Linked DNA regions of Homo sapiens. The protein of the gene in region 1 interacts with the protein of each later gene in a pairwise test. Each region holds a gene or a part of one and is shown on either strand. Other genes may lie near its edges.

Region 1 (3,806 bases):
GCCCCCAAAGCTAAGGCACCTGTGCCCAAAACTCGGCTTACCTTCCTCCGCGAGGTCTTTGTTAATCACCAGCTTGCCGTGTCTCAGGTAGTTCAGCACAGGCCCAAAGTAGGTGGGGTCTCTGTCGATTAAATAGGCGCCTGTTTCATCCTAAAGAGAGCAGAGCACGGTGAGTCCTCCGTGAGAAGCCGAAGGTTCCTGCAGGTCCACCAAGGCCCGGCCACCTCAGGAGGCTTCAGAGGCACCAGGTTACCCAGGCCTCTCCCCAGCACACCTGAGCCTGCGGCATCTCAGGAAACCCCTGACGGTGTGGCCACGTCCTGCCGCCTACAGCCTAACCCTGACCAGCCACCACCCCAGGTCTAAGTGAGTTTAAGTCTCTCCGTACGGAGGCAGCCTGGCTCTGCGTACTCCAAGGTGAGCCCACTGTGCCCTGGACCTCTGTCCTCACAACTGCAAGACCTCTAGGAAAACACACACGAAAACCTCACCCAGAGATGCCCTCGCGGGCAGGGCAGGGGCCTAGGGCTCAGCCTCAGAAGGACACCTCTGATGGCCACCAGCCTGGGCCTGCGCTCCTCGTGCCCGGGTCCTCCGCAGCCTACATGCAGGAACCGGGGGTCAGGGTGACAGGGGCTTCCTGCCAGGGGTGGAGAGGGCACCTTTCAGCAGGGGCGGCTGCCCAACAGGCCGGGAGCCAGCAGCGAGGGAGGCCACAGTGACCGGCACTCAACAGCATCCGGGGCTTTCCCCAAGATCATCACTCACCTCACAGAGCCCTCGCCCCGGCTCAGCGCTCACGGAGGCCGAGATGTTTACAAAACAGACCCCTCGGAAGGTGTCCTCACGCACCTGGGTGGAGGGACCCCTGAGAGGCACTGCCCCTGCTGCTACCACGGCCACTTCAATGTGGGCAGATGCCCTCTGAGGCCCGGGGTGCCCCACACATCACACCTTGCAGCCCCTTCCACAAAGCACAAGAGCCCCAGTGGCCCGGCCGTGAACACAGGACGGGGGCTCAGACGCCCCAGGCAGCCCCCATGGGGGAGACGGAAGAGGCAGTTTCTGTCTTGTCGGCTACACATCTGATGGGGGGACTGCGAAGCTGGCACAGCCTGTCTTCTACACAGACTCAGACCTTCCGTGTGGCTCTGCTGGGGCAGCTCCTGCCTCCCCCCACATGCCTGCAAGGGTCCTGCTCCCACCTGCGAGCCACTCCCACAGGGGCTGGTGCCTGCGGGTGCCCTGGAGGCCGGGGAGCTGAGGCCTCCGTTCAGAAACACCGGCAGCCTCCCCGGCGAGGCCCAGGGCCAAGCGCTGGAGAAGCAACCCCACACCCCATTCGGAGCAGGAGCAGCCCCCTCACCAGATGGTGGCTCCTGTGGGGCCATGGGCAGGCGCTGGCCACGGGAATGCCAGGCTCGCAGATATGGGGAGGCCGAAGGTGTCTCCACCACAAAGCACGGGGCCACGCTAGGACCCTATTTTCATCCATGGACAAATTCTGCCATTTGGGTGCTAAGACCTAGTGGTCTCAAGAGATTTTCCCAAAGTCCACCACCGCAAACCTGCAACAACCTGCTCTTTTTAGATCACAGGGACTGAGTTTTGTGGCTGAGATAAAATCAATTAGGGCTCCGGGCATGGGGGCGCTGGACCCGGAGCCTCGGCGGCCCCCCTACTCCTTAGGGTGACCCCAGCTCCACACAGACCTGACCCTATCCTCCTTCCCCACCCTCCCCCGGAACACTCCAGCCAGAGCTGCCCACCCCACAGGCCCTGCCTCCTGGGCTTGGCCCTGCCTTTCCCCAGCCCTCCAGACTCCACAGCTCTCAAGCAAGGGCCGGGGCCACAGGGCCAGCTCCCGGGAAGAGGACGCTGGGCGGTCCTGCGCAACTGCTAAAAAATGGACACCATTTCCCACAAAGGGGCCCAAGTCTGGCAAGGCGGCCAGTGCTGCCACCCGAGTCCAGGGTTCCTCCCTGCCCCACCCCCATACAGAGAGAATGCTGGCCGCGTGACGTCCGCACACCGCTCAGCTCAGGAATTATTCACGGCTCACTGCTACCTCGACAGACCGCTGGCAGGAGGTCAGGAAAGATCAGATAGGGCGGAGGCTCGCCTCTGCCCAGGACAACCCCAGAGAACCCCTTTGTCAGCCATGGAGGCCTCCAGGCCTGGCCTCAGTGGTCAGACTGCAGGCTCACAGCCAGGCCACCCCAAGCCTCAGTTTCTTTACGAGCAAAAGGTGGGGGAGACCAGCTCGTGTAGCTCGGGGCCGCCATGAGTGCCAGGGCACCCAACCTGTGGCAGGACCTGGGCACTGAGCCGTGACCTCTAGGCCAAGACAACCCACCATGTGCTTCTCAGGCCCTGGGCCGGTGCAAGAGGAGAAGGAAGCGTGCTGGGCGCCCCCAGACACACGAGGCAACCCCAGCCCTGCAACTGGAAGGATGAAGGCAGGAGGGAAGGAGGGCAGGGTGGGGACGGCCATCGGCGGAAACTGCACAGCAGGACAGAGGAACACAGACAGGTCCAAGGAGCCGGCAGGGCACTGAGCGTGCTGGCACTGGGCTCGGCCTCAAGACGGGCAGGCAGGGGTAGGCCGCTGCCGTGTCTTGGCCACTCCTACCACTGGGCGGGGCTGGCTTTTCCATTAAACACCCCCTTTAGGAGGCAGCTTTTGTGGCTGATGCTTTGAAGGAACTCCTGACCTCAGTCTGGCCACAGCTGGCCCAGTGCGGTGATGCCAGCAGCAGGCCAACTGGTGCAGCTGCTGCCATCACGTGATACCTGCCGCTGCAGGGAGGGAACAGGGAGGAGGCGAACAGACCCCACTCCCCACACCATAGCCCACTGCCCTCAGCATGGCAGGAGAGCAGCATGGTTGGGTGGAGAGGGGCCCCGATGCAGAGCTGGGGCTGTGCTTCGGGGGCCTGGGGTGGGTAGTGAGAGTGGCACCAGCGGTGAGGACCCAGCCAGTGGCACAGCCATCACACCCACCCCACTGAAGATGTCAGGTTCCCGGGCCTCGGGAGGAGGATCTGCGTGGGGCTGCCTGGGGCTGCAGCCCTGGGGTTCGCCCCACCCAAACTATGGCTGCAGACCCGGGCTTCCCGCTCCACGGAGCAGGCAGGCCCACAACTGCAGCTGCCCAAACCACAGCCTCAGGCATCCCTGCACTCTTGGGGGCCCAGAAAGGCCCCTCTGCCGGGCCCTTGCAGGCTCAGAAGTGCCTGCTCTCACTGCCTGGCTTACTCCTATTGTTGGTGCCTGCTCCGATCTTGGAGCAAAGTTGGGGCCGAGCCCAGGCGCCATGTATGGCAGCAGGAGGCAGATAGATTCCTGGGAAGAAGGGGGTAGGTCCCCGGTAAGGCCCCACCTTCAGGCCAGGGAGGGCATGAAGGCTGGGGCCGGGCTGCCAGTCCCGGGGACCAAAGTGGGGACTTGTGGTGCGTTTTCCGGGCCTGCCCATGAACCAATTAGTATGCACTTCCTTCCCTCTGGGTCCATAAGAGCCCTGGGCTCAGCCAGAGCAGGGCAGAGGACAAAGAGGACAGAGACAATTGGCAAGTGGAAGACCAGCTGCAGAGGGAAGCTACCCTCTCTGCTGAGAGCTGGGAAGTCAATGGAGAGGAGCCAGCCAGTCCGGGGCCGCTTCTCTGCTGAGAGCTGCCAACTGAATGAGCCGACCTGCCTACAGAGAGGAGCTGCCCCCACAGTCTCCTCTGCACTGTCCCAACACTTGGTAAAGCTTCTCTTCGTCATGCTCACCCTCCACTTGTCTGCTACCTCATTCTTCCTGG
Region 2 (4,354 bases), on another chromosome or scaffold:
GTTATAATCCATCCCATTTTACCTCATCCACTCCCTATTTCACTGCATTCCCTGGGCTTCTTTTTTTCATTTGAGTATCCAACTTACCAATCTCCTTTTTTTCTATGTTTTTCTCTCATCCCTGCTCAGAGATGGATTCTTCAGTTAACCCTCAGCATCCTCCTGCATCTACAGGGCCCTCATTTTCAACATTTCCATTTCTTAGATTATCTATTTTTATTCATGTTTGGGCTATAATCCCTAAAATCCTAAAATTTTCAGCTTGCCCTCCCTCTATGCCTGAGGTCCACTTCCTGGCATTTCCAGCCTGGGCCTTAGCTTTTTCTCACCCCAGTAGAGGACGATGTCCTGGCCCTCTAGACTGCTGTGCTTCACCCGACAGGACAGGTCAGCTGCCTCCCCAGCGGCCACCTCCAGGGTTGCGCGGAGATACCATGTCCCATCAGCACTGGGCAAGATGTCCCCTCGCTGAGTGCCCTGCTGCTCCTGCTCACCCCGCATCCACATCACCCACACGGGCTTTGGGTAGAATCCTGAGACATGGCACACAAGCTGCAGATGGCCAGGGCCAGGACTGGGGCCATGGGACAGCCAGGCCTCGGGCTTCACTGCAAAGGACAGAAAAGATATTCAAATACAGACTTGGAGTTTCATATCTCCACAACAGTTTAGAAGTTTAGATAGACACATTGTTCCCATTTCTCTTTTTTTTTTTTTTGAGACAGGGTCTCACTCTGTCACTATGCTGCAATGCAGTGGCATAATTATAAATTATAGCTCACTGTAACCTCAAACTGTTAGGCTCAAGCGATCCTCCTGCCTCAGCCTCTTAAGTAACTGGGACTACAGGTGTGTACCACCATGACTGGCTAACTTATTTTTATTTTTTAGAGACACTGGTCTCACTCTGTTGCTCAGGCTGGTCTGGGACTCCTGCCCTTAAGAAGTCCTCCAGCCTCAGCTTCCCAAAGTACTGGGATTACAGATGTGAGGCACTGCACCCAGCCTTTCCCACTTCTGGGTGGCTCTTCCTTATTCTAAATTGGAAGGAGGTGGTGGAAGGGTATGATTTTCAAATCAAAACTTCTTGGAGGGAGAGTGCAGGACTGACCTTGCCGCTGGAGATGTGCCTTTCCTGCATCAAGAAGACCCAAGATGAAACGTGGGCAGGTGTCACTGAGAAGATTGTGTGTTATGTCATTTTCATGCTGATTCTGATTGAGCACTTTGCAGAAATGCTTGGCCATATTCCCAGCCACTGGATATGGCAACCATGAATTGTTCTGGAAGCTCACAAAGTCTGATCCTTGATAAGCTAACTGCAAGAAGCTTCCTGAGACCTTTCCAGAGTGCAGCTCACAGCCTCCTGTCACCTGTATCTCAAAAGGATCTGGGGTTATGAAATAGAGGAAAGAGGGAGAAAAAAATATAAAATGAAATGAGTAGAAGCAAAGATTATAGAAGCAGAAGGGGGAAGTGTGCAGGGTTTGACATAATGGAATAAAATTTGGTTTGGTCAGGGATTCAGAGAAAGAGGAATTGGTGGGAGCTGTAGGTGGAGGAAAAGATTAATAACATGAGGAAGAGGGCAAACTGGTCAAAGAAGGTGATGTGAATGCTGTGGGTGAGCAAGGACCTGGTGTAAGAGAACTGGGATTATAACAACTTAGGTTGAATTAAATGCAATGGGTTACAATTGAGTATATATAGAGAGACTGCTGAAGAGAATGAATGAGAAAGTGAGAAAGCTGAAGGTATCTGGTTGTAGGGCAGGCAGAAGGGTGGTCCTGGGATACCTGTAAGAAAAGATAATAATGCACAACCCTGCAATCAATGAGAGAGGAGTTCATAAGTAGCAGAAGTGTTTGGAGAATTAAGGTCTGGATGATAGCCCTTGCCCAAAAGTATGCAATTGCAGTTTTATGGTGGAAAGAATAGAATAAGATACAGAAGAGAGTCAGGCTGTTTCCTAAAGGAATAAGAAACATTGAGACAACCCCTCTCTCCCACCTCACCACTCTCCATGGAGAAAACTGAACTCACATTCAAACTGCAATTCATGGGCGTATCTACGAATTCCCTCAAATGACCGAATGGTGCGTATACGGAATAATGTTTCCAGTTCCTTCCACTCCTCATTGCTGAAGTTTCCCCTGGACCAGGGGCACAGGAAAACGATGGTGCTGGAATTGCTGTCCCAGGTATGAGTCTGCAAATCACTCAGCCAACCTGAGACCAGATTTTGTTTCCAGGAATGGTTGTAAAAGGATGCGATCCAGGTGACATGGAAGGAGAGAGGCTCCTTGAGCCCTGCGACAAAAGAACAGATAGAATGGGGAGAAAGACATTGAGAAAGAGGATGGAGAGAGAAAGGTGCCAGAGTGCGGGAACTCAGAATCTGGAGAAAAGGGGATCCATCATGATCTTAGCAGACATTCACTTGCCACACAGTCCCATGCCTTATCAACCACCTTCATAAGAGCTCAGGGACCTGGAGTCATGGATAGTCAGAATGGAACCAGCCTGGCACTCTCACTTTCCAGGTATATGCTAGGGAAACCACACACACACACACACACACACACACACACACACACACACACACACAGAGAGAGAGAGAGAGACCTTCACCCACCACCCAACTGGGCAGTTGTCAGAGTTCTTACCGTCTGCATTGCCATCACCTGGGAGAACAGCTAACAATGGAAGTAGCAAAAACAGCATATCATTTGCAGATGTTATTTCCTTCTCTCAGAAAAATTGGTCTTTGATTTCTGTTCCAAACAAACCTACCCCACGATATCTCTATTCTGACTTCTTTCTGCAGCCAACAGACAAACCTCCCCTGACTGCAACAAAGAAAATCCACTCCTTCAAAAACCCTGAGATGCCTACTCAGTCTCTCATTTCCCTCTGGTTCTGACTCTCCTCTCTGTTCCAGCTTCTCTCCTTGTCACCAACCTCCAACTTATTCACCTTCCCCTAATTCAACTGCTATGGAACAAGTCTGATGTGGCATTGAAAAGCCACTTAACCACTAAGGACATTTTTTTCTCAATCATACAATAAGAGCATAAAGTGAAATGGCTCCCAGTGTGCTGCCCAATGCTCCCATGTCCCTGCTCTTTTTGATCACTCTGTCCTTTTCAATATTTTCCCATGTATTCTCTTCCCCTGTCTCTTCAGCCCCTTACTACATTCACATTTCTGATTTAACATTGATTTATTTGCTTTTTCAGAGTCTCCTACGACTGCCCTGTGCGACAGTACAAACTAACACCTTTTCTCCATTATTCTTAGAGAAGAGCCAGTAACCATCACAAAAAAAAAAAAAAAAAAAAAAAAAAAAAAAAAAAAAAAAACCACAGGAACACTAAAACATATAAAGAAAATTTCCTCTGTTTGATTTTCATTGATATACATTCACTCACCCAACAGTCTCTCTTAGCACCTGCCTGGAGTCAAGCATCTTGGTACACTTAAGAATATGCAGTGGTTGACAACACAATCACTTTACTGAAGGAGCTTTTTCTCTACTTAGGGAGAAAAACACGCCATGAAATATAAATCTTGGTGTACTGAGTTTTATTATACTGTATACACTCTCTGGATAAAAACAAGGCCTGCTTGAAATAATATTTTCTAAAATGGGGGCTCCTAACTAATGTACGCCAGCCCAGAATTTTGACTTCAATGTTTGACTTGGAGTGTTAGTTCCATACAGTTATCATACTGTATCCCCACCTAACAGAGTATCTCACAAGTGGTAGGTGCTTAGTGAATATTTGTCAAATGAATGAATGAATTCAGTCTATGCATCCATTTTTTAATTATGGAGGTGATATTCAACATGAAACTTTTTAAAGATATCATAAAAGTTACTTGTAACCCTATGTAGTGAGATGAGAATCTCATACAGTTTTATTTAGGATAAAAGTACAAGTTACTGGCATGAGATTTACATAAAAGATCCTGCTATAAATGTCCTATTACTTATAAGAAACTAGTCAGAACTTGTGAGCAGTGAAGTTAATGGAGTATTCCAAAGTCTTTATCCCAGGATCCCTTTTTATTAGTCCTATTTGGATGTTTCAGGGTTGTTTTGTTATAAATGAGTCTTTGCCGGACACATTTACATTCCTCTTTTACGCTGCTTGTAACTGTTGAAGGGCTTCTAAATATATGTTTGTGCTTTGTAGATATCATCCATATAAATGTGTCTGGGCTATTTACTATTTTTTGGTTTTCAAAAAAAAAGTATCTGAAGCTAATTTAGGGGGAAAAAATTTTTTTTCTTGAGACAGGGTTTCACTCTGTTACTCAGGCTGGAGTGCAGTGGAATAATCATAGCTCA

The links.
Region 2: the proteins of KCTD5 (region 1) and CD1A interact in a two-hybrid assay, tested with the Homo sapiens proteins (one large-scale study listed by BioGRID and IntAct).

What each region holds. Positions count from the first base shown.
Region 1 is NC_000016.10:2,692,279-2,696,084, reverse strand, and holds part of KCTD5 (BTB/POZ domain-containing protein KCTD5), read right to left. Parts: intron 151-3,806; coding exon 42-150; intron 1-41. UniProt on the Homo sapiens protein: Its interaction with CUL3 suggests that it may act as a substrate adapter in some E3 ligase complex. Does not affect the function of Kv channel Kv2.1/KCNB1, Kv1.2/KCNA2, Kv4.2/KCND2 and Kv3.4/KCNC4.
Region 2 is NC_000001.11:158,253,040-158,257,393, reverse strand, and holds the start of CD1A (T-cell surface glycoprotein CD1a isoform 1 precursor), read right to left. Parts: upstream 2,971-4,354; 5' UTR 2,725-2,970; coding exon 2,667-2,724; intron 2,311-2,666; coding exon 2,044-2,310; intron 1,391-2,043; coding exon 1,112-1,390; intron 609-1,111; coding exon 330-608; intron 1-329. UniProt on the Homo sapiens protein: Antigen-presenting protein that binds self and non-self lipid and glycolipid antigens and presents them to T-cell receptors on natural killer T-cells.